Homo sapiens: one gene and its partner. The protein of the gene in region 1 purifies or fractionates together with the protein of each later gene. This does not show direct contact. Each region holds a gene or a part of one and is shown in the gene's direction. Other genes may lie near its edges. The genes, in order: SLC26A4 and FNDC3A.

Region 1 (10,728 bases):
TAGTAGAGATGGGGTTGCACCATGTTGCCCAGGCTGGTCTCAAACTCCTGAGCTCAAGTGATTTGCCCGTCTTGGCCTCCCAAAGAGTTGGGATTACAGGCGTGAGCCACTGCACCTGGCTAGCTGAATGTCATTTTAATATAAAACTGTTGTAAGAGGAATTTAAAAATAATAGGCAATTTCTAGATGTTCATCCAAAATTTTGTTTATCTGGTATATAATTCTTATCTTCTGTAAGATTTTCTTTATTCAGTTCTAACAAGAGATTATCAAGTTCTCTATGACCAAGACCTTATTATTTGACACTTTGCTTTATCCTTGGTATTAGAAGAAATAAAATATGACACAGGAAATGAAAAACAAAGAAATTAAACATCCCATTGATGGACTTGTGTCACCTGCAAATAAAATTGCTTAGTGGTGACTAGGGGAAACAAAGATAAAAAAGCAGAGAAAGTAAATCAAGAAAATACAAATTTAGCAAATAATAATAATAATAATATCAACCCTAGGAAGTTGTAGTCTAATTTTACCTTAACATTAAAAAAAGTTGGACCTTGAAACTGGGATTTCAGTAGCTGCTACTTAATTTATTTCCGTGATCTTTCTGTTATGTTGAGCCAAGTGCCATTAAGAGCTAAAATGATTTAGAGATTTTTTTGGCTTTGGGGAGGGAGCTCTAAGCTGAGTTAGGGAATTCTGACTTCTAGGCTCCATCTTGGTGAGACTTTGCCCAAGTCATTCAGCCTCTCAGGACCTCAGTTTTCTCATCTGAAGCAGCTAGACTAAAATTGCTGATTCCTGAAGACTAGAAAAGTCTATGATTCTGTGATTCCTGGGTTCTATTTTGGGTGTGGCCATTGTATGTCAGGGTGAGAACAGATGATATCATAGGCCTCAGTTCTGCAAATCCCATTGATTTTGCTTTTTTTCTTTGCTACTTTTAAAGAATGTTAGCAAAATCAGGAGGGTCAGTGGTATGAACTTCAGGCAAATCATGGCACTGTTCTAAGCCTCAGTTTCTTTTCTGGAAATCAGAGGGTTGAATAAATTGCTTTCTAAGGCCCTTTCTAACTTTGACCTTCTATGAGACTGTAGAGGTCCAAGAGTTTTTGTAACCTGTTGTCTCCCTATTCAAGAAAAGTTGTAGAGGCCGGGCACGGTGGTTCACACCTGTAATCCCAGCACTTTGGGAGGCTGAGGCGGGTGAATCACTTGAGGTCAGGAGTTTGAGACCAACCTGGCCAATGTGGCAAAACTCTGTCTCTACTAAAAATGGAAAAATTAGCTGGGTGTGGTGGCAGCACCTGTAATCCCAACTACTTGGGAGGCTGAGGCAGGAGAATCCCTTGAACCCAGGAGGTGGAGGTTGCAGTGAGCCGACATTGTGCCACTGTACTCCAGCCTGCGCAACAGAGTGAAACTCCATCTCAAAAAAAAAAAAAAAAGAAAAGAAAGAAAAGTTGAGTGCTGCTACCCAGCTCCTCTGAGCAACTGTGACTTGACTCCTTGCTAAGTAGCCAGAAATGTAATTAAATACTTGAGGCTTGAAATTATTTAATCCCAGACAATTTCTTTTAATGCCAGATTGAAGAACCTCAAGGAGTGAAGATTCTTAGATTTTCCAGTCCTATTTTCTATGGCAATGTCGATGGTTTTAAAAAATGTATCAAGTCCACAGTAAGTATTTTATCCCTAGAAATTTGTTTTCTAACCTCTTTTGAGACTTCATTCATTCTACAAGTATTTACTGGGGTCCAATCAGGAATAGGCCCTAGACCCTCTTCCCTTTGTGTAGGGCAATGAGAATTAAAATATAACATCCTTGCCTTCAAATAATTTACAGTCTATTTGGGGATTAAAAAAACACATATGTTAAAACCCAGGTAGTAATAACTATGCCAGACAAAAACATTAGAGATGTTTCTAGGCAGAATTTGAGTAAGTTTCAAATAAGTAGTATAGACAGTTGAGAGTTCATAGAAGGAAGAGATCCAGGTTAGTTGGACTAACAGGCTTTGTGCGGCAGTTGGCTGAAGGAAAGAAATCATGTCAAGTGTTTGAGAACTATGTGAGCTGAGAGACAGTGGAAACATGTATTGGAGGTAGGGTTGCCCAGTTGCAGCAAAAAGTAAAATATACTAGTGGAATAAATAAGTAGAAAATCCTGGCACCAAATGCCATGCTATGCTTTGAACTTGGAGTTTGCCTCTAAATCAGTGTTTTTCTAAGTGAGTTCCAGGGCAAACTGATTCAGAGGAATGTTCACAGATTTTGCAATAACAAAAGGGCTCTGTGATACCAAGGGAATTTGGAAAACCCAGACTTAAACTAAAGAGGGTATTTTGGGGTGTGTGTGTGTTTCTGTTTTGTCTTTTACTGTCTTGGAGCCTTTGATATGCTACTGTCTTCTCAGAGCTTCTGGGTAGGAGTAGGGTAGCCTGGGAGTAGACAGAGATCTACTCCATCAGACCTTACAATTTCTTTTTTGGCAGGATAGCTCAAGGAATTATACCCTTTGAGAAATAGCCTTTCCAGATAACAGTTGCCATTAATAAGCTTTAGGTGCCAGGCATTTTAAGTAACTTGACATTTATTTCCAAAGGTTGGATTTGATGCCATTAGAGTATATAATAAGAGGCTGAAAGCGCTGAGGAAAATACAGAAACTAATAAAAAGTGGACAATTAAGAGCAACAAAGGTGAGATGACATCTTTCTTTTCCCCCTTAAATTATTTCCTTTCCCTGATGAGAGCAGTTAGAGGGTCTAAAATTAAATCTATCCTCTTTAGTATCCAGATGTGAATGAACAAATGACATGTACGTATCAAAGAACAACTGAGCTATTCTTATAGGCAAGCGGGAGTGGAAGGGAATGAAATAAAATCAGCAGCGCTGCCTGGAAACACAGGATGTGATTTTTTTCCCCACCATGAACAGTGTCTGCATTATTTTCTATACTTTATTTTTACTGAAAGGAACAAAATAAGTGCAAATTCAATGCCAGAAAACTACCCACCATAGAAGGCAGTCTAAGTCCATAAACTTTTGGAGCTGTTAACTTTTACTCAGATTCTTCTGGCCAGTGTATTTCTTGGCAAAGTTCCACAATCATCCAGAAAACAAAAGTTTCCTGGCTCCTCTGTTCTCCCAGTTTTCTTCCTAGACAACATCAAAGTTTGGGCTGAGGTGAAACCCATCCTTAAAAATTCATCTCCTTGATGTCTTGCTTACCAAGGAACAGTGTGTAGGTCTTTTGGATAATTTGATATGAATGGTTGAAAGATTTCAAATCTTTGACAATTAAGTTGACAGTGTTTTCTTCGTTTAGAATGGCATCATAAGTGATGCTGTTTCAACAAATAATGCTTTTGAGCCTGATGAGGATATTGAAGATCTGGAGGAACTTGATATCCCAACCAAGGAAATAGAGATTCAAGTGGATTGGAACTCTGAGCTTCCAGTCAAAGTGAACGTTCCCAAAGTGCCAATCCATAGCCTTGTGCTTGACTGTGGAGCTATATCTTTCCTGGACGTTGTTGGAGTGAGATCACTGCGGGTGGTAAGGTTCTGGTTTTCTGAATTATACATTTGGAGCTTTGGCAATAGTAAAATGATGTGGGTTGTCCAGTATTGCAACAGGGCAAATACATGGGCTTTGTAATTTTTCTAGGTGAATGCTTTTGTAAAAAAGTGTAATATTTTAAAGCATAGGCTCTGGAGCCAGACTACCTGGGGGAGATACTGGCTTCACCACTTACTAGCAGTACGACCCTGGGCAAGTTGCTTAATCTGTCTATATCTCAGTTTCTTCATCTGTAATATGGAGGTAATGATGGTATCTACCTTCACAGGTTGTTACAAGGATTAAATAAGCTAATAGATATAAGGTGTTTAGAAGAGTGTCTGGTTCAGGCTGGGCATGGTGGCTCACGCCTGTAATCCCAGCACTTCGGGAGGCTGAGGCAGGTGGATCATGAGGTCAGGAGTTCAAGACCAGCCTGGCCAATATGGTGAAACCCCGTCTCTACCAAAAATACAAAAATTAGCTGGGCATGGTGGCGCACACCTGTAGTCCCAGCTCCTAGGAGGCTGTGGCAGGAGAATCGCTTGAACCCGGGAGGTGGAGGTTGCAGCTGAGATTGTGCCACTGTACTCCAGCCTGGGTGACAGAGTGAGACTTCATCTCAAAAAAAAAAAAAAAAAAGAATATCTGGTTCAAAGATACTCCCCAGCAAATTAATTCACATTTATTATGTTTTATCTTTCTGAGAATGTATAACAAGTGGTATATGAAAAGAAAAAAATGGGCAAAAGTTTATTAAGTATTACATTTCTATTTGTTATGTTAACAGCAACAGGATAAGGAATACCAGGTGTATGTTAGGACTGGAAAAGCCAGGCATTATTAAGAGGTTAGAGTAGGAAGCAGGTCAGACATCTGGAAGGTCAAAGCAAGAGTTGAGGAGTATGCAGGATAGAAACATTAATGATATCAGAAACCAGTTATGCAAGCTGAAGTTCATTAATTCTGTCAACAAATAGATGTGAAATGCCTAATGTGTACTGAGCACTCTGCCAGGCACAAGAGACTAGTGATGAAGTAGACACAGTTTCTACCTACGTGGGACTTAGCAGTCTGGAGGAGAAGGCAAACATTAAGTCATCTTATAAATAACAATTGTAGTAAGTGCTCCAAAGAAGATGAATAGGACATCACCTGAAGCATCAAGTTCAGTGAAGCTTCAGGTAGGTATCAAAAGGGTCAGGCAGAAAAGTAAGCAGGTCAAGACACCAACAATCAGATGTAATAATATAAAGCTGACTCCTAACTGAGGTTCCACTTAGCTAAGGCTTCTTTGCTACCTCTATAAGGGGAGGAAATGATTCCAGGATGTGGGTACTAGGTAGGTAGGGTAGAGAAGTGATTGTGCTTGGCAAAAGAGTATGAGAATATGCTGACAGGTTCTGTTCTAGTTCTCTTAGCAGATTTTGTTATTAGCTCATTTGAAATCACTCTTGTTCTTTGTTGTACATTTCACTCTAAGCATTGGCTGAGATCCATTGTAGACTATATTGGCCAGAGAGTTCAATGAATTACTTTTGGGGACAGTCTTAACATATTTAATGCCAGAATATTTCCCACACAACGAATATTTACTTTCAAATATTATAATGACAGTTATGATAGCTAAAGAAGACTCCAAACTTTATACTTGAACAGAGGTCTTGATTTGTTTTCCTCCATAATTCTCAAATTCTCTTTTATTATTGACTATGGGTCTTGTGTCTTGACTTTTTAAAATTAAATGTTTATTTTGACATAATTGTAAATTCACATGTAGTTGTAAGGAATAATATTTAGATCCTATATACCCCTTACCCAGTTTCTCCCAATGAGTAACATCTTGTAAAACTGTAGCATAAAATCACAGTAGGACACTGACATTCAAAATAGAGGCCTTGACTTTTAGGTCAATAGTAACATTTTGAACCCGATAAGCATAGCCACACCCATATCTCTTCTCCAATCAGCAGGGCCTATATTAAGAAGCCTCCTGTACTCTCTTCTTTCCACAAATGCTTATTTAGCACCTCCACGCTATCAAGTGCTGTGCTATTGAGCGCTGGATGTTGCCATCTCTTGAGATATAATCCTAATTATACCATTACTGTAGTTTGAAAACCTCCATGGTTTTGCAATAATAACCTTTCCTTAAAGTCCTGATTAACCATGAAAGTAATAATGTTTCTCCTGAGCAAGTAACTGAATGCTACTGAATTATGGGCAGATAAGGTTGTTAATTGTTACAAACTCTCCTTTTTTATTTTTAGATTGTCAAAGAATTCCAAAGAATTGATGTGAATGTGTATTTTGCATCACTTCAAGGTAAATACATATATCTACATATCTACCTGTAAGACTTTCCCGTAAGCCCTTTCTCCTATCTGGGACTGTGGTCACATTATGTCTGAAGGCCTTTTTTTTTTTTCTTTTAAAGATCTCAATTGTCATTATTTGCAGTTCTGGAATCTGGCACTGCTTCATTCCATAAAACAGAATAAGTGTTCCAAGGAACTAAGCAGGAGTTCAGTATTATACACAGAAAAGGCCAAAGACAGCAAAAGCAAGCAACAAAGAGTATATTAGTCCATTCAAAGTTACTTTCTTGTAAGTCAGAGACAGTGAGACAGAACAATAGGAAAATAATGGATTAGTTAACATGAGGTCATGTCAGGATACTTTTTTGTATGAGGATTATTGCAGAGGAAGCTTTATTATTATGCCAACTGGAAATTTAAACTGTCCTGTTTTAGGAAATTTGCTATTACCTCTCTCTCCTGATTTCTTCAAGTATCAGATAACAATTTAGTTTAGGTTTGATAACTTGAAACTTTAGCATGAGTGACTCCATTTTGATTTTTAGTCTTGTCTGTTGTCGTCTAGTGCGGGAGCTTAGTCTAAAACAATGGCCTTTTATTTTTATTTTTTATTTTACTATGTGCCTGTGCCTTGCATGACCCCAGGATGGGCACAGCTGCTTGGCCCCTGAGCCACCGAAGGCTGCTCTACTCCTTCGTTCTGGCTACTAAAAGCTGCAAAGCTCTGGGAGGGCAAAGCTCAAGAAGACTAAAACAATGGCCTTTACCATTTTTGTTTGATGATTTTCCCCGTTTTGATCAGGCTCTCACCTAGGTAAGAGTGAACAAAATGTAGGAGATCAGTGCTACTCTGTTACCATCATTTTGGGTTTCTGGTCTCAGGAGGTCATGTGTAGCTTATGGTGCCCTCCTCATTATCATGTATGTCTCTGAGTTTTTGTTGTTTCAGAGAGAGACCATTCGATGTCTGACAGGTGGCTTTTTGGAAACATTTAAAACTTTGAGAGGGTATAATGTACCAGGAAGACTGCTATTATGACTATCAGGGAGATAATACCAAGGGTTTATAGTATGCTCCTTAGCCAGGATTCTCATGAATCAAACCAACTAAAATTGAATAGCCTGACAAGGAGACTACCTGTTTTAACCAAGAAGTCTTCTCTGTAGTACCTGATGTATTTATATATGTGGAACAAGAAGTGTCACCCAACTGCACAGATGCTTCCTTGTTGAGTTAGCAGGTAATCTAGCATTCCATGACTGGTTAAATTAAAGCAGAAAGTGTAAGTTACCCAAAGAAGCTACTCATTGTGAAGTTTTAACTACAGCACTATCCTGCCAAGTGAAAGAGGTAGGCACAAGTAAGGGAAAATTAAAAGGGATAAGCATCTTATGATAGGGAGTCTTGTTCTGACAGTCTTGGAGCTGTCTACAGCATGAAGTTGACAACTTCTTGTTTTGGTTTGTAGTTTTATTGTCTCTAGTTGTGGCATCCAGCATTCTGGCGAACTCTCTATGTGGCCCACAGTTTAAGCATGAGATTCATCTCTTGAAATTTACACTGAGTTGCTCAGCTTCAGCTTACAGAGCTTCAGGAACTGAGTAGTTCTTGGTCTTCATTGGAGTGTTGTAGCCAGATATTAGTGAAAGCTAAAAGAATTAAGAATCCAGCTCAGTCTACAGGTAGATAATAAAAACTCATAAATATTGAACAGGGCTACAGTCTAAGAACAGTTTTACTATGCTTTTCTTTTGAACCATATGTTTTTCTTTCTATAGTCACCTCCATTTCTATCAAAGACGATCATGGTAGACCAATTTGTTTACAAAATAAGTTTGGTCTCAAACTTGGCCTGATTGATTATTTACACAGTACAGCAAGAATAACTACATAGGTGACTCCTTTCAAATTTGCTTTGCCAAGCCTGGCGAGGTATTGCTTGCCTGTGAGCCCAGCTACTTGGGAGGCTGAGGTGAGAGGATTGCTTGAGCCCAGGAATTCAAGGCTGCAGTGCACTATGATTGTGCCTGTGAATAGCCACTGCACTATAGCCTGGACAACACAGTGAGACCATGTCTCCAAAAAATAATTGCTTTGATAGAAATTTTGACAAGGAATCTCAGATTGGACTTTTTAAAACGTCTTGATGCTATGAAGTCAAACCAAGGCAGACATTAGGCTTTGCCTGATGTATCTAATATCTTGAAGTTACTGGGCCTCCCAGGAAGGAACGACTTTTTATTCACTCATTGTAAGGCTAGCAGCCCTTGAAGCCAGGAATTCTGTGCACATTTTCAAATATGATATTCTATTCAAAGCCTTGATAATATAACCAATGTTTTCCAATTGTATTCTATTTAAAAGAACAGATTCTATTGAACTTTCATGTAAATAATCATATTGCCATAAAAATAAGAATACTCACAAAGAGTTTCCAAATTCTGGAAGGATCAGGTAGAGAGGAAAAGCAAATGTTTCAATTTTTGTTTATGAAAGTATGCTTAACAAGGCTGGGTGCGGTGGCTCACATCTGTAATCCCAGCACTTTGGGAAGCCAAGGCGGACAATTGCTTTGAGCTCAGAGTTTGAGACCAGCCTGGCAACATGGCAAAACGCCGTTACTACAAAAAATACAAAAAATTAGCTGGGCATGGAGCCTGAGGCTGAGAATCACTTGAGCTGGGGAAGTGGAGGTAGCAGTGAGCCCAGATGGTGCCACTGCACTCCAACCTGGGTGACAGAGTGAGACCCTGTCTCAAAAAATAAAAAAAAAGTATGCTTAACCAAGTGGCTGTAAACTGCAGATAGCTTTAAAGAAAAATTTTCTTTAGATCTGGAAAACAAATATTAAAAGAACCAGCAATGTTTCAAATAAAAAAGCCATAAAACCTGTAATTCTTCTCCATCAGTTCATTCAGTCTCATGTAATTAATTCTTGCTCTGTTTGATCTTGGCTGGTAGTTTAATTCCAACGAATGGTATGAATTCAAAGTTATTAGAAACCTGTATTTGTCAGAGTTCTTTTCATTCTTCCCATATAACTCTTTGAAGTCACAGCACTTTAGAATTATAATGGCTTACAAAGAGCTTTCAGAAAAAGTATCAGAACAAAACAATTAACTGTGGACAACAAGACTTAAAGTGGCTATATTTAAAGATCTGATGTGAGTTACCCAATTGACAAGGATATTTGGATATTTCTGTGGCACACAACAATTTAAAATAACCAAAATTATGACTGGTAGCATTTATACCAAGACCTATCACATTTCTAGGAATGTTATATAATTTTGGAACATATTAATAACATATCTATAAAAATATAGCACAAAGAAAGTTAAACATCATTTCTTATTTTAACAGTGCTTCCCATATAATTTAACCTATCAGATAAGGCCATTTGGTTTAACATCTCTCTTTTACAGATTCTTTAAGAAATTCCAGGGTCCTCTGGAACATCCCAAAGTTAGTTCAAGGTCAAAAAGACTTAATTTTGATTTTTGAGAAGTTTGTCAAATACCAAAGGTTTAAAACATTTGATCAAAATCGGATCATAGGTCACTATGAAATAAAACCAAAGTGAAAAAAGAGTTCAAAGGCAAAAAGCACAAGAAGAGTTATATTGATGAAACATGAAATCTCTGTTTTCTAGGCCAGTTACCTGGAAGAGAAAATCCTCTCACAATTTTCTATTAAGAGTAAACCAATCCTCTGAGAAAACTCTATTGTTCCAACACATAGGCCCACACTTTAGCCTTCCATCAGTGTACTTTAATATTAATGCTCAATTTTTAGAAAAACTTATAAATAATTCCCTTCTACTTTTAGCCAACTCAATCACATAAAATTTTTCATGATATTTATCTTCTACAAACCTTCTACAACTTGCTTAAACCTTCATTTGGTCCTATACTTCCTTTTTTAAAATTGGCATTGTACCTTAGGACAAAGATTTACTTTTCTTTTCTCCTTATCATTTTGACCATATAAGGTTATCTCCTATACAAAAGAAAAAATTACTCTCTTTTCAATTTTCTTTATCTCTTCATACTTGTAAATTTCTTCTCACATCTTTCCTACCTAGTGGTTCCTTCCTGCCTTGTTTTGATTTCCTTCATAAGTCCATATTTAGAAACAACCTTTAAATAACCTCTGATTGCCAAGCTAGAGTTAAGTTTTAAATAAATAAATAGGCCGGTCATGGCGGCTCACATCTGTAATCCCAGCACTTTGGGAGGCAAAGGTCAGAGGATCACTTCAGGCCAGGAGTTTGAGACCAGCCTGAGCAACATGGTGAGACCCCGTCTCTATTATTTTTTTTTTAAAAAACAAAAAGCATAAAAACTCTGAGAACATTTTGAACCCAGAAAGATATTACTTCCAATTTGTGCCACAGAGCTGGTAATGTATGGAAATGTGTATCTTGACAGTGGGTGGGGGTGGGGTGAATATTGACAATGGGGGGATGTTGTTATGAGGAGAGCAAAGCTGGAGATTACTTAGATTCCTTAGAACAGGAGGACTCTCAAGGGTGTGAGTCTCTGTGTGTTTCTTTATGAATGTATGTGTGTAGGAAAGTGCTAAGGCTTAGGTTGAATTCTTTAGCAGCAGAGCCCAAGATGGGGATTCTTGCACAAGCGATTTATTGAGAATACATCTGAGGAAATTTATGAAGCAGTGAGGGGAGCAGGATAGGGAAGGGGAAGAAGCTGATCAAAGACATGGTTTCTGAAGTCCAGCGTAGATCCCTGATTTCACAGGGAGCACCACCACAGGAAGAGTACCAGAAGGTTATGCCTCCTTGAGGCAAGAGGACCTGCTTTCTCCCCCAGTAATGAGTCAGT
Region 2 (17,712 bases), on another chromosome or scaffold:
TTAAAATACAATTTGATGAAGTAACCAAAAACGTTTTTTTTTTGAAACATTGTTGGTGCATTTTTGAATGAAAATGAATCTAGATCGTGTCTTTGAGAATGGTGTAGGGATATGCACATGATTTCCAATTTTATTAGCCAGATAACTAAGTGATTAGTGTTTCTGGTTTTTTTTTGTTTGCTTTTGTTTTTTTTGTTTTGTTTTTAGCATTGCCTAGCGGACTTCAAATAAACTCACAATATTGTAATTCCGAAGGTTTAGAATATGGTGCATATTTATTCCATTGAGCCTTTTACTGCTTCAGTTTATCACATTGCAAAACAAGAAATATGGCTCCCATATGTGTGAATGTCAAAAACTACTTGTTAAAACGAAATTAGTGGCCATTAATGTTGAAAGGCAAATTTTGTACTTTTACATGTATTGTGAGCTTTTATAATTTTCTTAATATTTTGGTCTTATTTCAGATAATTATTCAGTGGTCTCTTTTTATATCTTTATTCTTACCTTTCTGTCTTCCCACTGTTGTGGTTTTGCTTGTCTTTAATATATACTTTCAAGTTTTCTGTGTAACCTGTGGTCTTCCATCAAGTTCCTTTGTGGGTGTCATCTTTCAATGTTTCCAATCACTTATCACCCATTACCAGTCCTTGGGCTATTTTTTCCTCCAAGATTGAGAACTACACCTGGGAGATGTCATGTGCTTGCAGGGTGATGCAATGTTATTAAAGTGGGGATACAAACATAGTGTGATGTCTTCCTTCCTTCAAGTAGTTTACAAATTAGTTGGGGGTACTAGACTAATAGTATCATTAGCAAAAATTATAATATGGTATTATTAAGTTGTGTGACACCAACTGGAATTTAAAGGGAAGTGAAGCCAGTGAGAGCTAGAACAATCCTGGAAGGCATTTGGAGGGAGTCAGAGGAAACTTAGAAATGATTTAGATAACAAAAGGAAAGGCATTCCAAAAGAGATTCACAGGCAGAGTTGGAAGTAGTAGTAGAATAAGTAGTCCAAGAGCATCCAAGGACAGAAATTGGGACGAAGAAAGAAAGAAAGTTAGGTCGAGATGTTAGCTTAAGCACCAGGGCATCAGAAGAGGAAAATAGGCAGAGCTGGACAAGACAGTTTGTATCATTAGGAACCTATCACTGAAAGAACTATACCTCAGCTTTGACATATTAATAGCTTAAGCTTTATGTATAATGGATAGCTTATATGTGTTTGTTTGTATGGCTTAGGTCAGGGGTCGGCCAACTTTTTGTGTAGAGTGCTAGATAATTAAATATTTTAGGTTTTGCAGGCCATTTACAGTCTCGGTTGAATGTTCTTGTTTGTTTGTTAGTTTTTTATAATCTTTTAAAAACGTAAAAATTTTTACATTGTTGTCTCAAGAGCCAAACAAAAACAAGCCATCTGTGGACTGGATTTGGCCAGGGGACCTAGTTTGCTGACTGCTAGGTAATAATTGGCAAAGTAATTGTCCATATAGCACATACTGTGAAATTTCTTGCATCATCTTGTCTATATGGTGGTTTGGGCGTTTTATGACTATCATGTATATATTTTTCCTTATGTTATCCTAAAAAAAAAGTATGTAGAAATAAGTGCTTCTGTAATTGTTATTTTGTGGCCAGACTTCTAACAAGAGCCTAGAATAGGTCTCAGAATTAGGAAGTGAAAGACGAAAAGCCTTTGAGTCAGGCCTTACTACAGTGAAAATAGCTACACAGTGGCTTGATTTAGAATTTGTATAAGGTTAGGTGTATCAACTGCCTGTGCTGGTTTTACATTTTTAAAAACAGCTGGCAGGTTAAAAACCTTGTCTAGGATGCTGGTGGTCTGTAAGTGACAACAGAGGAGCAGGCAGTAGGGATCTTTGTTTTTAGAAGTAGTCTAGGATGAGTTAATAAAGGGACAAGCAGTTGGACATTCTGCAGTACTCCAGAAAGAATCACTCTGTTATGGAACAGTCTAATAATTGATATTTACATTGATGAGCTTGAGTCATCAAGAAAAGATTATATCATGTGCACATTAAGGCACGGAAGAAAGACCTAGAGATCTCTTTACAAATAATTAAGATTTTTTTAAGATAAGTTATGGTGATTTAAAGGATATAAGTATCAGCTGTTTTGAAAAGTAATTTACATGAAACATCTCTGAAGTTTCTAAATTTATAGATATCTATTTCTAAGGCAGTTCTGTTTCCTTCAGTATACTGTGGTTCATGTGCCATTACCAGGTGAATAGTGATGCCTCACGCTGTGGCTGCACAAATCAATTGGCTGGGGCAACTGTATTTTTTGTGGCATCAAGAGAGCAAGAATACATCATGAGAGCATTTTTTCATTAAGCAGGCATCAGTACATTCCATATATCAGGGTTAGTATTAGGTGCTGGAAAAAGTACAGATGTATAAGATGGGAAGCAACCTGGACAGAATCAGTGATGCTTCTTTCTTCCTGTTAAAAACATTAAAACCAACCAAACAAAATCATGAAACTTAACTTTTGTACTTTAATTTATTATTAGCATTTTTCATACTTAGTACATACAGTACCGTAATTTTAAGGCAATATAAAGCTTTTGATTTAAATAACAGCCTTCATAAATTGCTACTTAATACAATTTTTACTTTTTAAATTTTAGTTTAAGGAGAAATTCATGCCCTCCCTCTTTTTTTGTGAATGCTTGAAACAGCTTCACCATGCCAGCTGTTTCCATTTGCTAAACAAGAGGTAAATTAAAGTACCTTGGATGGTGACTCAAAAGTCTAGTTCTTAGTTCTAACTTCACCACTTATTACCTATATGATTTTGGGTTAGTTTCTTGCAATCTTGGTTTTCTAAGCATTAAAATAGAGAATAATATCTATCCTGTTTTCCTCAAAGATATTGTGAGAACCCACAGAGATGTTGGAAACTATAAAAGCATTAAAATACATACCATAAAAGTGCTTACATTAATGCTACTATATTGGAAGCAATGCAGCCTTTTTTTTTTTTTAAGACCAGAGTTCAAGCTTTATCCTCCAAAGTTCTGTAAACATAGTATGTTTCCAGTAAACATTCAGTTGAGCTCATTGAATTTTAGAACCTATACTTGCTTATTTTTAAAATCCTATACAAACCTGCCAGATATGTGGTGGTATTCTCATTTTACAGATGAACTATACTTCTGATTGACTTCCATATCTCTTTCTCCTTCACTTCTTGAGATCTCTTATGTGCTAGTTGCTAGAAATACAAAGTGCAATGTATACTTTGAAGTAAGCCTTGGTGTAAAAGTTACCTAAGTTTGGTAAATTAGATTGTGTATGTTAATCAGCCTCTATCAGAAATGCTGGGGGAAAAAAAAGTGTTGTATCTGTTTTCTTTCCTCAGAATCCATATTTTAATATATATTTGAACTTTTAAAAACTTAAATGATTTCGCTTCACTACTTCTTCAGTGAGGGATTACTTTAATTGGTTTATGTATATTCTAAACCGACAGACACATAATTTGGGAGGCAAAAAAATCTTACTTCTCTAGGGGTTCTAAACAGATATTTAAGTACACTTTAAATCACAGTTTAGACTTTTATTAGAAAGTAATTACGTGCTTTGCTTTATAGAAGTATATGCCATATACAGCAACTACTTTTGTTGAGCCATAACTTGAAGGATTAGTCATTTCATTTACTTTAAAATCAGTTTTTCTTAAGATTTGCTTAAATAAAAAGTGAAAATTCATAATTTGCGATTTTATGTTTAAATTTTCTAAATTTTTTTTGTTTTCTTAAGACAGACATTCTCAATTATGTCTTTGTTCTTATGACTTGATTTTTTTCCATGTAATATTTTCATTTGTAATATATACCTAAAAAAAATTTTTAGCATAGTACCTTCATAGTTTATGAAGTACCTTTTTGTTTCTTTAGTAACTATTAGGATCAGCTTTTCCTGATGCTTCAGATTGGTATTCCTGAAATAGTATGTTCGCATTTTTGTTTTAATCACTTGAACCTTACTAAAACTGGCCTAGTGTGTGTGACAGAGTAGCCTTTGGGTAAAATGTAGGGGCTACTGCCCCTCTAACCATCTTTTAGGCTGCTTCCAGGATATTTAAAAAACATGAATTTATTCAGATCATTCCCCAGTTTTAGAAATCGAAATCACAATACAATTCCTGCTGCATTAATTATAATTTCCTTTGTCTTTGAGAGTCCATACTCTGTTGATATCCTATTGTGTCATCATTTCTTACCTCTTTACAACTTTGTGATATAGTGTAGAGAACATATTTCTCATTAGGCAGCCACAGGATTGTTAGTTGACTTCTCATACTGGCTGTATAGAAACATGAGTGTGCTACTTTACCTGTATGAGCCTTGGTTCGTTCATTTTACAGTGTAGTAATAATAGTAGCTATCTCCTAATATAGACTGTACAAGAATTAAAAGATCCTATTTAACATGACAAGTAAAATGCTTGCCATAGGATATTTATATCTAGAACTTTGACAGACATACCTAATCATTGTCACTCAGGCATCCTGCATATCATTCATTTATTCATTTGCCTATCATTTGTTGAACATTTAAAATGTCCTAGATACTTAGAATATGAATGTTGAATGTCACAAAAATGAATGTCACACTCCCTCCCCTTTAGAAATTTACAGAATGGGATGAGAGATAATGATATGTAAATAAATACATATTTTTAAATAATTAAAATATCTTGTGTCTTTTCACTTGTGTGAGTCCTTCCTGTCTTTTAATATTTAAATGCAAAATGTTTCCATAATACCCACAGAATATCTGGGTTGTATATATCATACTGTAATGTATATATATTTTTTACTTGTCTAAATCAGCTATTCAACTATGAACTCCTTGAGTTTGACCAGTACTACTGGAGTCAGCAACTTTTTTAATATAAGAGAAGGTAGTAAATATTTTAGGCATTGTGGACCATATGGGCTCAGTTGCAACTACTTAAACTGTGCTACAGGAGCACAAAAACAGCCATAGATAAATTATAAACAATGGGCATGACTGTGTTCCTATTAAACTTCATTTACGAAACTAGGCAGCAGACCAGATTTGGCCCACAGGCTTTAGTTTGCCAACCTCTGCAATGGTGCATGCATATACTTTTATTTGTGCTTGACAAATAAAAGGCACTTAGTAAATAATATGATTAATAGGCATTAAACACTTTCTGTATTCTGGGTGCTATTGCAAAAAACTTTATATGTATCAGTTTACTTAAGCCTTAAAACATCTCTCTGCGGTAGATACTATTATCACCAAATGTCATAGAGTAATAATAGAAGCACTTTCATTAATAGATAGGAACACAACATTGGTTCAAAAGTCTTAGGCAATACATTAAGAACAAGAAAAATAATTAACCTGTAAATAAAGGGGGGAAATGTATCACTATTATTTAGAGTTGATATGACTGCTTACAAATACAAATAAATATAATACAAATACAAATAGCAAAAAAATATGAGATAACAGAAAAAGATTTGTATTAAAAAATTTCAGTAAGCTGATTGGCTATAAGATAAAGTTAGAAAATTCATTAGCCTTCTTATATATCAACAATAACCAACTATGAAATACAGTAATAAGAAGTAGCAGCCTAAACTATAAAATACTTAAGATTTTAAAATGTGTAATAGCTATGTGAAGAAAACTGCAAAAAGATGTGAATGGATGGAGGAGTATTCATGAATGTGTCAACTTAATGCCATAAAAATGACAGCTTTTACTAAATTATTCTATAAAGTCAATGCAGTTCTAATCAGAAATTCAACAGGAGTTTTAAAATGGAATTTGACAAACTGATGGTTCAAGTTTTGAGAAGGGAGCATGCACAAGAATGGCCAAGTAAATTTCAAAAAGAAGTATAATAAATGGGACCCATCAAAGGTCGAAACATTATAAAATTACAATTATTAAAATAAGAATTTGGAGTAGGAATAGGCATATTGATCAAAGGAATAGAATAATAAATTCAGGAGAAGATCCATAGATAAACATGGATAAAGAAGAATTGTATGATAAATGAATGAGTAATGGAAGAACTGGTCTATAAAGGGTGTGGGACAATCAACTGTTTAATTGAAGTAAAGATAGTTAGGTACCCACTTCGTGACACTCTCAAAACTAAGTTCCAGGTGGACTAAATGGTTTTTTATTTTTATTTATTTATTTATTTTTGAGATGGAGTCTCGCTCTGTCACCAGGCTGGAGTGCAGTGGCGTGATCTCGGCTCACTGCAACCTCCGCCTCCCAGGTTCAAGCGATTCTCCTGCCTCAGCCTCCCAAGTAGCTGGGATTACAGGTGCCCACCACCACGCCCAGCTAATTTTTGTATTTTTAGTAGAGACGGGGTTTCACCATGTTGTCCAGATGGTCTCGATCTCTTGAGCTTGTGATCTGCTCGCCTCAGCCTCCCAGAGTGCTGTGATTACAGGCGTGAGCCACTGTGCCCAGCCCCGAGTGGACTAAATGTTGATAAATAAAAAATAAAATGACAAAACTTTTAAAAGTTAATTTAAAAACTCGTTGGAGTAGAGAAGGCCTTTTAAGTGAGACATCAAACTTAGATGCCATTTAAAAAGGAAGGCAAGCAATAGACTGGGATAAAATATTCGACATGTAATAGACAAAATTAATATTCAAGGTATATAAGGTGTACCTACAAATCAATATGAAAAAGATAACCTGATAGAAAATGGGAAAGAATGTAAGCAGGAAATTTATAGAGGTAGAAATATAGGTAGCCTGTTAAGTTTTGAAGGAATACTATTGAACCGAATATAAATAGCTTCATCTTTTTAGGAGAAAAGTTTGGCAGTATCTATCCATTTCAAATGTACGTTCTCCTGAGCCAGAAGTTTTATTTCTATATGTCTGTAATATAGAAATGCTATCATTCATTAATAGAGAGTATTGCATGATTATTCCATGCAGAGGAGAAAATGTATGATGGGAAACTGGAAGTAATAAGATCATCATTAGAACAGTTAAATTATGGTGTGCCCTTACACTATAATATTAGATACTTATGAAAAAACATGAAATAGACATAGATGTACTTCTTAAGATATTTTACATGAAAGGGCGAGATACAATATAATACATACACAAAGACACAATTCATACACACACAAAAAAAATACAATACACAAAAGCAGTGTATGTGATTTCACTTACATAACAACCAATCCCAGAAAACCTAACACACAGGTAAGCACAGAGAAAAAGACTGGAAGGGTACACCACAGTTGTTAGCTATAGAAATAGGAGTTGGATTAGGGATCAGGAAAGAGTTAAAAACAATGTTTGTATGTGTATTTTCAAGTATAAGCAAGTACAGCCTTTGTGATATAACAAACATAACAACACATGCAAGGCTTTGTTATGATTGGTCCTGATTAGGACCATTCCTCCTGGGTGGACAGCTTTGATTTATGTCGGTTTTCCCTGCGTAATTTTTAATAGCACTTCCTTTCACTTGCAGAAGCTTCCCAGTTGGTGTCTGAAGTCATTGGTGTTTTTAGAAATAGCAATTTCTGTATAGTGTTGGATCTGAAACTGTGTTAAAGTGGGTTAAAGAAGTGAGAATTCTACCAGTGATTCTTAACCTCTATAACTACAACTGCCAACCAAGACAAAATAAAGTGCTTTTTATTTTCAGAGTTTCTGTTATAAAAACACTTTGCTTTTTTAAATATAAAGTTATAATTTCGAATGTAGTTTTTTTAAAGTCCCATATGTCTGGATATTTTGATCCTCCCCTTTAATATTAAAACCTAATATTTCAAGACAGTTAATGATAGAGGTCAAGAGAGGAATCAGAAGCTTAAGAGGAAGACAGAGTAAGGAGAAGGAAGTTGTTTTTTTTTTTTTTTTTTTTTTTTTTTTGAGGCGGAGTCTTGCTCTGTCGCCCAGGCTGGAGTGCAATGGCGTGATCTCGGCTCACTGCAACCTCCGCCTCCCAGGTTCAAGAGATTCTCCTGCCTCAGCCTCCTGAGTAGCTGGGACCAGAAGCACGTGCCACCACACCCGGCTAATTTTTTGTATTTTTTAGTGGAAACGGGGTTTCACCATGTTGGTCAGACTGGTCTCAAACTCATGACCTCATGATCCGCCCACCTCAGTCTCCCAAAGTGCTGGGATTACAGGCGTGAGCCACTGCGCCTGGCCCGGAAGGTTTTTTTAAAAAGAAGTTGAAGGAAGATGAGTATGATTAGAGGCAATCTTTAACCAAGGCATAGTTGTAGATTTATAAACAAAGAATCTGGTCATCTCAGAAAGGACTACTTTAAGGACTACTGGATTCTGCAGACAAATCTACTTATAGGAAATAAAGAAATGTTACTTGATTTTATTATGATAAAATTATTTTGGAGGAATTAGTGAAGGAAACATGTTAATATGGTTAAGTTATAGTAATACAGTAGCTTTTACACAGGAACTCAAACTTTCTGTTGTGAATTTAGTTACCAATGTATTACTGTGGCCAGAAAATATTCAGAAACTACAGGTTTAATCTTCAGTCCAAAAATCACACCAATGGATTTGAAGTTCTACAAGAGCAAAGTTAACAATCTATAATATAAAAACTAAAGTTTTATATAATACTTCTAAAAAGGACAGTAAAATATTTGGAAGTGAAAATAGGATTGTCCCAGGTGTAGTTGCCTTTTGGCTCTAAAGGGTAGCCTATGTGCTCCAAAGACACTAGACAGCTAGAGCTATATGTGGAACTTAAGAAGATGTTACTTGAAAGAAAAACTGATCTATGTGCACACTATCAGTCCTTTAATGGACTGGGGTTCGTTTCTTGGAAGCAGTTCTTTCTCTCTTGTTTCCATAGTTTCCTGACTGGAAGTATCTTTTTGATCAAGATTTCCTTTGAAGTCTATTTTAACAGGATTTTCATGTTAGTATTAAGGTATAATTTCTTAGTGGGAGAATGGGGGCTGTATCTCCTAAATGTCTAATTAAATTTAAATTTAGTATATCTGACTAAGAAGGGTGAGGATGGTGGCTTGAATGCCCTCTTCCCTTTTAAACCTTTCTTCACTTAAGGGACATGAAAGAGTGAGGCTTATCCATCCGACCAACACTACTCTTTCCTTCTTTCCAGTGGATGTGGGATTGGAGAAGAATAAGATAAATAAGTTACAGTAAATTTGTTGCTAACAATCTGTGTAAATTATTGATTTCTTTGTAAGTGTATGAACACTTTCATTAGGTTAAATTGTTGATATTTTAAAGTTTTTGACCTCAGTGGCAGTTTCATATGGTTTGACCTATTGCATTATGAAACTATGGCTATAATCACTGCCCTGTATATAAAAATGTTATGGCACTTAAACAAAAATACATTATAACTTATTTAAATAGCATAAATTTGTGCGTGCTTTGGCAGCACATATACTAAAATTGGAACGATGCAGAGAAGATTAGCATGGCCCCTGTGCAAGGATGACACACAAATTCATGAAGCGTTCTGTATTTTTCAGACTCTAAACCAACAAAGATAAAAAAAGACAAAGAAGGGCATTACATAATAGTAAAGGGCTGAATGCAACAAGAAGAGCTAACTCTCATAAATATGTATGTGCCCAATACAGGAGCACCCAGATTTATAAAGCAAGTTTTTAGAGACCTACAAAGAAGCTTAGACTCCCACACAGTAATAGTGGGAGACTTTTAACACCCCACTGTCAGTATTAGATCAACGAGACAGGAAATTAACAAGGATATTAAGGACTTGAACTCAGCTCTGGATCAAGTGGACTTAACAGACATCTACAGAACTCTCCACCCCAAAGCATAAATTCATAAACAGTACATCACTGATGAAATGTCAACATCCAAGCCAAATTGGAATGTTCATGAATACACCTACTTTAGCAACAGGTAAAGCCAAAAATATTGTTACTGCAGATATGTATCATTATACATTAAAGGGTTAAACAACCTTCTCCAGAATCTAAATTGCATATGAGAATGATAAAAGCCATAATATAGTAATTTATAATTTAAAAGCTTGTAGTATGGCCAGGTGCTTGGCTCACACTTAATAGTCCCAGGACTTTGGGAGGCTGAGGTGGGAGGATTGCTTGATATAAGGAGTTTGAGACCAGCCTGAGCAACATAGCAAGACCTTGTTTTTACTAAATAATAAGTAAATAAGTAAGTAAGCCAGGCATGGTGGCACATGCCTGTAGTTCCAGCTACTTTGGAGGCTGAGGTGGGAGAATTGCTTAAGCCCAGGAGCCTGCAGTGGGCCATGATTGTGCCACTGCACTCCAGCCTGGGTGAGAGAGTGAGAACTTGTCTCAAAAAAAAAAAAAAAGATAAGAAAAAGCTTATAGTAATTTATAAGTTAAAGCTATCAGACATGAAAACCTTAAGTGTTCAGCAAAGTATGGATAAACATATACATTTAAGGAAACTACACAGGGCTGGAGAAAGAGCCAACTAAAAAGATTGTATATAGAACAGTATCCAAGCTCACACAGGGCCAGAAGAAGTGCCTGTTTCCACTAGCTAGAACAGAAAGCCTCATAATTCACAAGGCATTCAGTAGAGTACTCTGGAGGGTTTTGCATTAGTAGTGGGGAAAAATTAATTACATATTAAATGCAGCTCTGTTCTTGCCTAATCCATCGTAAAAGCAAGTCCCAAAGAGTCAAACTTTGTCCGAGTCCCTTAGCCACATGTTATAACAAATCTCCAGATTATTTATGGAAATACAAAAATATCCAACAGCCAACAAGATAAAGTTAACAGTATCTTACATGCAGTTCAAATTACTGAGTCTGCAAAGAAGCAGGAAAATACAAACCATATTGAGAAAAATTAATCACTTGAAATTGGCCTTCAAATGATACTGATGATGATAGTCATTAAAACAGTTATGACTGTTGGAGAAGCTAACAAAAAGATTGAACATGTTAAATAGAGATACTGTCTGATTAAAATTACGTGTCAAAGACATACTACATTAATGGCATGTTAGACTTTGTCAAAGAAAAGATAAGTGTACATGAAGATACAGCAATAGAAACTATCCAAAATGAAGCACAGAAGAAAATAGAATTTGGAGACAATAACTGAAAAAGTATTTGAAGAAATAATGGCTATTTTCCAAAATAGATATAAACTATAAACCAATAAGCACAATAAGCATAAGAAAGATGAATAAAACTCTGCTAAAACACATCATAATCAAATCACTTAAAGATAACTTTTTTTTTTTTTTTTGAGACAAAGTCTCGCTCTTTTGCCAGGCTAGAGTGCAGTGGCACAATCTTGGCTCACTGTAACCTTCGCCTCCCAGGTTCAAGCGATTCTCCTGCTTCAGCCTCCCGAGTAGCTGGGATTACAGGTGCATGCCACCATGCCCAGCTAATTTTTGTATTTTTAGTAGAGATGGAGTTTCACCATGTTGGCCAGGATGGTCTCCATCTCTTGACCTCGTGATCCGCCCACCTTCGCCTCCCAAAGTGCTGGGATTATAGGCGTGAACCACCGTGCCTGGCCCATAAAGGAAATCTTAAAAGCAGCCAAAGAAAAACAGAACAAAGATAAGGGTGACATCAGATCTGTCATTAGAAGCAATGTAAGCTAGAAGACAATGAAGCAATATCTTTAAAACATTTTTTTGCAAAAACTGTCAACCTGGGACTTTTTACCCAAACTGTCTTTCAAAATAAAGGCAAAATAAAGATTTCAAATATACAAAAGCTGAAATAATTTATCACTTTCATTTATGAACTAAAAGACATGTTAAATAGAGTCCTTCAAGCAGAAGGAAAATTAAACCACATGGAAACTTGGCCACAAGGAGTTTAGAGTACTGGAAGTGGTAACTATCTGGGCAAATATATAGGATTTAAAAAAAATTATTATTTGAATATCTTTAAAAGACAAATGACTGTTTAATATAAAAATGATGACAGTTGCCAGGTGTGGTGGCTCGTGCCTGTAATCCCAGCACTTTCGGAGGCCAAGGCAGGCAGATTGCTTCAGCCCAGGAGTTTGAGACCAGCCTGGGCAACATGGTGAAATCCTGTCTCTCCAAAAAAAAAAAAAAAAAAAAAAAATTAGCCAGGCATGGTGGTGCATGCTTGTAGTCACAGCCGCTCGGAAGGCTAAGTTGGGAGGATCGCTTGAACCCAGGAGGCGGAGATTGCAGTGAGCTGAGATCACACCACTGCATTCTAGCCTGGGCAATAGAGACCCTGCCCTCCCCTAAAAAATGACAACATGAGGTTTAAAACATGTAAAAGTAAAATATACAATAATAGCAAAAATCCCAGAGAAATTGCAGATTTATTGTTGTAAGGTTCTGATACATATTCCTGAAGTAGTGTATTACTTGAAGGTATACAGTAATAAGTAAAACATGTGTATTGTAAATTTTAAAGAAACCACTCAAGTAACAAAGAGTTGTAGCCTATAAATCAACAAGAGAGAGGGGATGGTATAATAGGAAATAATTCAAAATGAAGCAGATGAAGAGGGAAAAGGGGACAAAGAACATTTGAAACAAATAGCAAGATGGTGATGTAAATCCAGTCGTATCAACAATCACATTACATATAAATGGCCTAAACACCACAATTAAAAGTCAGGGATTGTTGGATACAATTTTTTAAAATTAAGACCCAAATATTTCACATCTACAAGAAATCCACTTTAAGTGAGTTAAAAGGATGGAAAAAGATATGCCATGCTTACACTATCCAAAAGAAAACTGAAATCAGTAAGTTAAACCAGAAGTTAGGTTACAGAACAAAGAATTCTTACCAGAGATAAAGAGGATTATTTCATACTAGTAAAGGGATTAATTAAGAGGGCATGCAATTATAAATATGCATCTAGTATAGGAACTGGCCTGGGGGCAGTGGCTCATGTTTGTAATCCCAGCTCTTTGGGAGGCTGAGGGGGTTGAATCAGTTGAGTCCAGGAGTTCGAGACCAGCCTGGGCAATGTGGTGAAACTACGTCTCTACAAAAAAATACAAAAATTAGCTGGGTGTGGTGGCACACGCCTGTAGACCCAGCTACTAGGAAGGCTGAGGTGGGAGGATTGCTTGAACCTGGGAGGTTGAGGCTGCAGTGAGCTATGCTCACACCACTGCACTCCAGCCTGAGTGACACAGCAAAACCCTGTCTCAAAAAAAAGAAAAAAGGAAAAAAAAAAGAGAGAGAATGTTTCTGAATATATGCTGGAACTGCAAAGAGAAATACAGATGCTCTTTAATTCATGATGAGGTTATGTCTCAATAAACCCACCTGGTTAAAATATGTCAGAAATGAGTTTAATTCACCTAACCTACTGAACATCGTAGCTTAGCCTAGCCTATCTTAAATGTGCTCACAACACTTACATTATCATATGGTTGATGAACAAAATCATCTAACACAAAGCCTATTTTATAATAAAGTGTTGAATGTCTCGTGTAATTTATCGAATACTGAAAAGTGGAAAACCGAATGCTTGTATGGATACTTGATGTATGGTTTCTACTAAATGTGTATCTCTTTTGCTCCATCATAAAGTCCAAAAATTGTAAGTTGAACCATCACAAGTTGGGGATTGTCTGTATACAAATAATGCAATTTTAGCAGAGATTTCAATACCCCTCTCAATGGAAAGTAGAAAGAATGTAAAGCCTAAAACTATGAAATTTCTTAAAACAGGAGAAAATCTCTGTGACCTTGCATTAGGTGATTTCTTAAGTATAGCATTGAAAGCACCATTCATAAAATGACAAATCGATAAATTGTACTTTATCATAATTTAAAACTTCAAAAGACATTGGTAAGAGAATATAAAAACAAGCCACAGACTGGGAGAAAAATATTTGTAAATCACTTATCTGGTAAAGGACTGCTATCTAGAATATATAAAGCACTATCAAAACTAAATAATAAGAAAACAGTCTAGTAACTAAATGGACAAAATAATCCAACAAATAGTCAACCAAAAATATACCTGGATGGCAGATAAGCACATGAAAACAACATCATTGTTCATGGAAATGCAAAGTCTCCAGTTTACAAATGGTTAGTAGGAAAATTTGAGAGATGACGGGTAAGTTCATTATCTTGATTATGGTAACAGTTTCACAGGTGTATTTATGTGTCAAAATTTATCAAATTGTACACTTTTAAACATGTGCAATTTGATATATGTCAGTTATACCTCAGTAAAGCTATTTCAAAAATCAAGAGTAGTTGACACATTGTATTAGGTTGGTGCGAAAGTAACTGGTTTTTGCCATTGCTTTCAATTAAAAGTACCATTTGTACCATTAAAAGTAATGGCAAAAACCACAATTACTTTTGCACCAACCAAGTAGTTATAACAACTACTTGATGCGTGTTTGTTTAATACATTTAACTCATTACTCTGCCATTTCCCAGGAGTATTTGAAAGTTTCAACTTTGTTTAATCTACAGGAAATAGCAACTTCAATCTAAGGATAGTATATCATACTCTCCTAGTATATTGATTTGACCATAATATCCAAAGGCAATTAAAAATTCTTCATTAAACTTGATTCCTCTACGAATACTTTCTTATCCTTAGATCAGTATTTTTATCTGTTTCTCGTTGAAGGATAATGTATTCACATCTGGGATGAGGCTTTCCAGAATGAGGTATACACCTTACATTGTTATCAACTTTACATCCTTATTATCAGTTAGTACTTAATGTAAAAACTTACTTAGTCTTAGAGTTGTATGGCCCAGAGACTAGCAGCATCAGCCTAACCTGGGAACTTATTAGAGATGTGATTTACTGGGCCCCACCACACACCTGTTGAGTCAGAAACTCTGTATGTGTGGCCCAGGAATCTGTTTTAATAATCCCTGCAGGTCATTCTGATACATACCAGGATTTGAAAGCTGTGATCTTAGAGCAACAATAGGACTTTAGATTCTTAGATACTTATAGTAGTTTCATTTTTAAAAATCTCATATGATAGCACACTTAAGATTTGTACATTTCTGGTAAAAGGAATTTGACAAAAAAATTTTTAATGAAGATGTGTACATTTTACCATACATGAACTTTTTTTTAAGGAACTAAAAATTTTGAATGCTAGTAACACATGCAAAAGTGTTTAGGGGTGAAGTATACTGATGTCTGCTGCTTTGAAGTGCATTTAAAAAAGATCGCTAGAGGAATACATGCAATTAAATCCTGTCAATTTTAGAACCTAGGTGGCAAGTATATGGGTGTTTGCTGTTCAGTTATTTCAGCTTTTCTGTGGGTTAAAAAAATCCTCATAATATAAAATCCTTCCATGACTCCTTTTTAAATTTTTGATCAAGAGAGTGAAATGTGCCCAGAATGTGCTCTTAGGCAAAATAATGGTAGATAGTAATGAAGTTTTAGTATCTTAACAGCAATTATGAATAAAGATATAGAAAACTGTGTTTCACTAGAATGATATTACATTTGTTAATCTTAGAAATTGACTATTTGAGATTTTTCTAATCAAATTAAAATGGAAAGTGTAATCTTGCTAATGTTCTTTAAATTACCTCTATTGATTGTCTCTTCATATATCCAGATGAAAAGATCATCAGCTATATATGATCTAGTTAAAGTCACTTTTAAGGACTGATATAAATTATTGATTTTTTCAAAAATAAAAAAGTAGACCAATGTGGTCTTCAGAAATAAAAAAAATTACTTGCTTTTAAAACATTATTAAAGGCTTGACAGTCAAATGGATGGTACTTAGATTAAAAGAGGTTTTTAAAGACATGGCAAATAGTAGTGTGCACATCTGATACAAATCCTGATTCAAACAAGTTTTAATAAAAACAAGACAATGCAAAATTTGAACACTGACTACATATTTGATGATTTAAGGAATTATTGAAGTGTATGTATGGTAATGGTTTTGTAATTATGTTTTAAAAAGGAGTTCCTGTCTTTCAGAGATACATACTGAAATATTTGCTGTGGTTGAGCGCAGTGGCTCACGCCTGTAATGCCTGCACTTTGGGAGGCCGACGCGGGCAGATCACAAGGTCAGGAGTTTGAGACCAAGCCTGGCCAACATGGTGAAACCCCATCTCTACTAAAAATGCAAAAATTAGCTGGGCGTGGTGGCGCATGCCTGTAATCCCAGCTACTCCGGAGGCTGAGGCAGGAGAATTGCTTGAACCTGGGAAGCGGGGGTTGCAGTGAGCCGAGATGTGCCACTGCTCTCCAGCCTGGGTGACAGAGCAAGACTCCATCTCAAAAAAAAAAAAAGAAATATTTGCAAATGAAGTTTTGGAATGTCTTAGATGTGTTTCATAATACTGCAAGACAGGAAGTGGGGTATAGATGAAACTAGACTGGTCATGAGTTGAAGCTGGGTAATGAGTACATGGGGTTCATTATACTATTATGTTTACATTGGTGTATGTTTGAAGTTTTCCACAATAAAAGGTTTTAAGAAAGATGTAGGTTAAATTTAACTCTTACATCATGATCTGAGAATGAAATCATCACTTATTGTGGTGTTTCAGTGAGAAAATATTTTCCAATTATATCTGACTTTAAAACAACTAATAATAATATTAATAAGGTCTCTATGTTGCCCAGGCTGGTCTCAAACTCCTGGACTCAGGTGGTCCTCCTGCTTCAGCTTCTTAAAGTGCTGAGATTACAGTCGTGAGCCACTGTAAGAGTGAAAGGCCTTTTTATTTATTTCTTTTTTAATATTTTCAGATATATCTGACTTCTAACAAAATACTGTAAGGGAGCCTATTTCTTGATTGAGGACTGCCTTTTTTTTTTTTCTTTTAGCATAACAATCTTAGTTGTAGCCTTTTTGTGTACCAAATCTTGTACTGTTTTATACTTCCAGTATCCAAAGATATGAAAAAAGTGAGCATGGGGAGAGAAAGAAAAGCAAGGAACTAGATTAAGCATAAATCTTTTGAATTATAAAAAGCTGTCTTTTTTTAAATTTAATATCAGTCATTGAAAATGATTAATAGCACTGTCTTCTTACCATCCTCCTCCCTTCTCACTTTCTCTACCAATATACATTTCTATTATAAATATAGAAGATAACAAGATTGCTTATTATGTCTTCATAAAATTTCACATTAACATATGGACATTTAAGGTGAACTGAAATAATGCATGTAATTATATTTTTAAGAGCCATTTTTCTGCAGTACAGTTGACATCAAAGAGGGTAATTCAAAGAATTAGTTTTGGCAAAAATATAAAATAAGCTAATATCCTGTTCTTATTGTTAAATACAGTCTATGAAATATTTGTTTTTGGTTTCTGATAAGAAATGATAGGATAGTTTTGCAGAGTGATTCCCATGAGTTTCATCTCAGGAAATTCCACCACAGGTGATTTCAAATACCTTATTTTTAGTCTAATATAGTCAAGTTTAGAAGATGAAAAATCCAAACGTTAAAAATGAAGTAGAAGTCTAAATTGGAAAAGTACATTTTAGGATATCAGTTCATGAGATAAATTAGTATTTTGGATAAAGTCCAAGTTGTGGCAGAACTTATTTAAATTCTCCTGAAAGGGTACTTAGATGGTTGAGAAGCCAAATATGTGTAGTTGCCTATGGCTCTTCAAGACTATTAACTTTTAAATCAAAATTTTGATGGTGGTATAAACCATATCCATATTATAAAAAA

What was found.
Region 2: the proteins of SLC26A4 (region 1) and FNDC3A purify together in Homo sapiens (affinity purification with mass spectrometry; 2 studies listed by BioGRID and IntAct, with this or other methods). This does not show direct contact.

The regions. Positions count from the first base shown.
Region 1 is NC_000007.14:107,698,496-107,709,223, forward strand, and holds part of SLC26A4 (pendrin), read left to right. Parts: intron 1-1,587; coding exon 1,588-1,680; intron 1,681-2,605; coding exon 2,606-2,701; intron 2,702-3,331; coding exon 3,332-3,562; intron 3,563-5,835; coding exon 5,836-5,890; intron 5,891-10,728. UniProt on the Homo sapiens protein: Sodium-independent transporter of chloride and iodide. Mediates electroneutral chloride-bicarbonate, chloride-iodide and chloride-formate exchange with 1:1 stoichiometry. Mediates electroneutral iodide-bicarbonate exchange.
Region 2 is NC_000013.11:48,978,481-48,996,192, forward strand, and holds part of FNDC3A (fibronectin type-III domain-containing protein 3A), read left to right. Parts: intron 1-17,712. UniProt on the Homo sapiens protein: Mediates spermatid-Sertoli adhesion during spermatogenesis.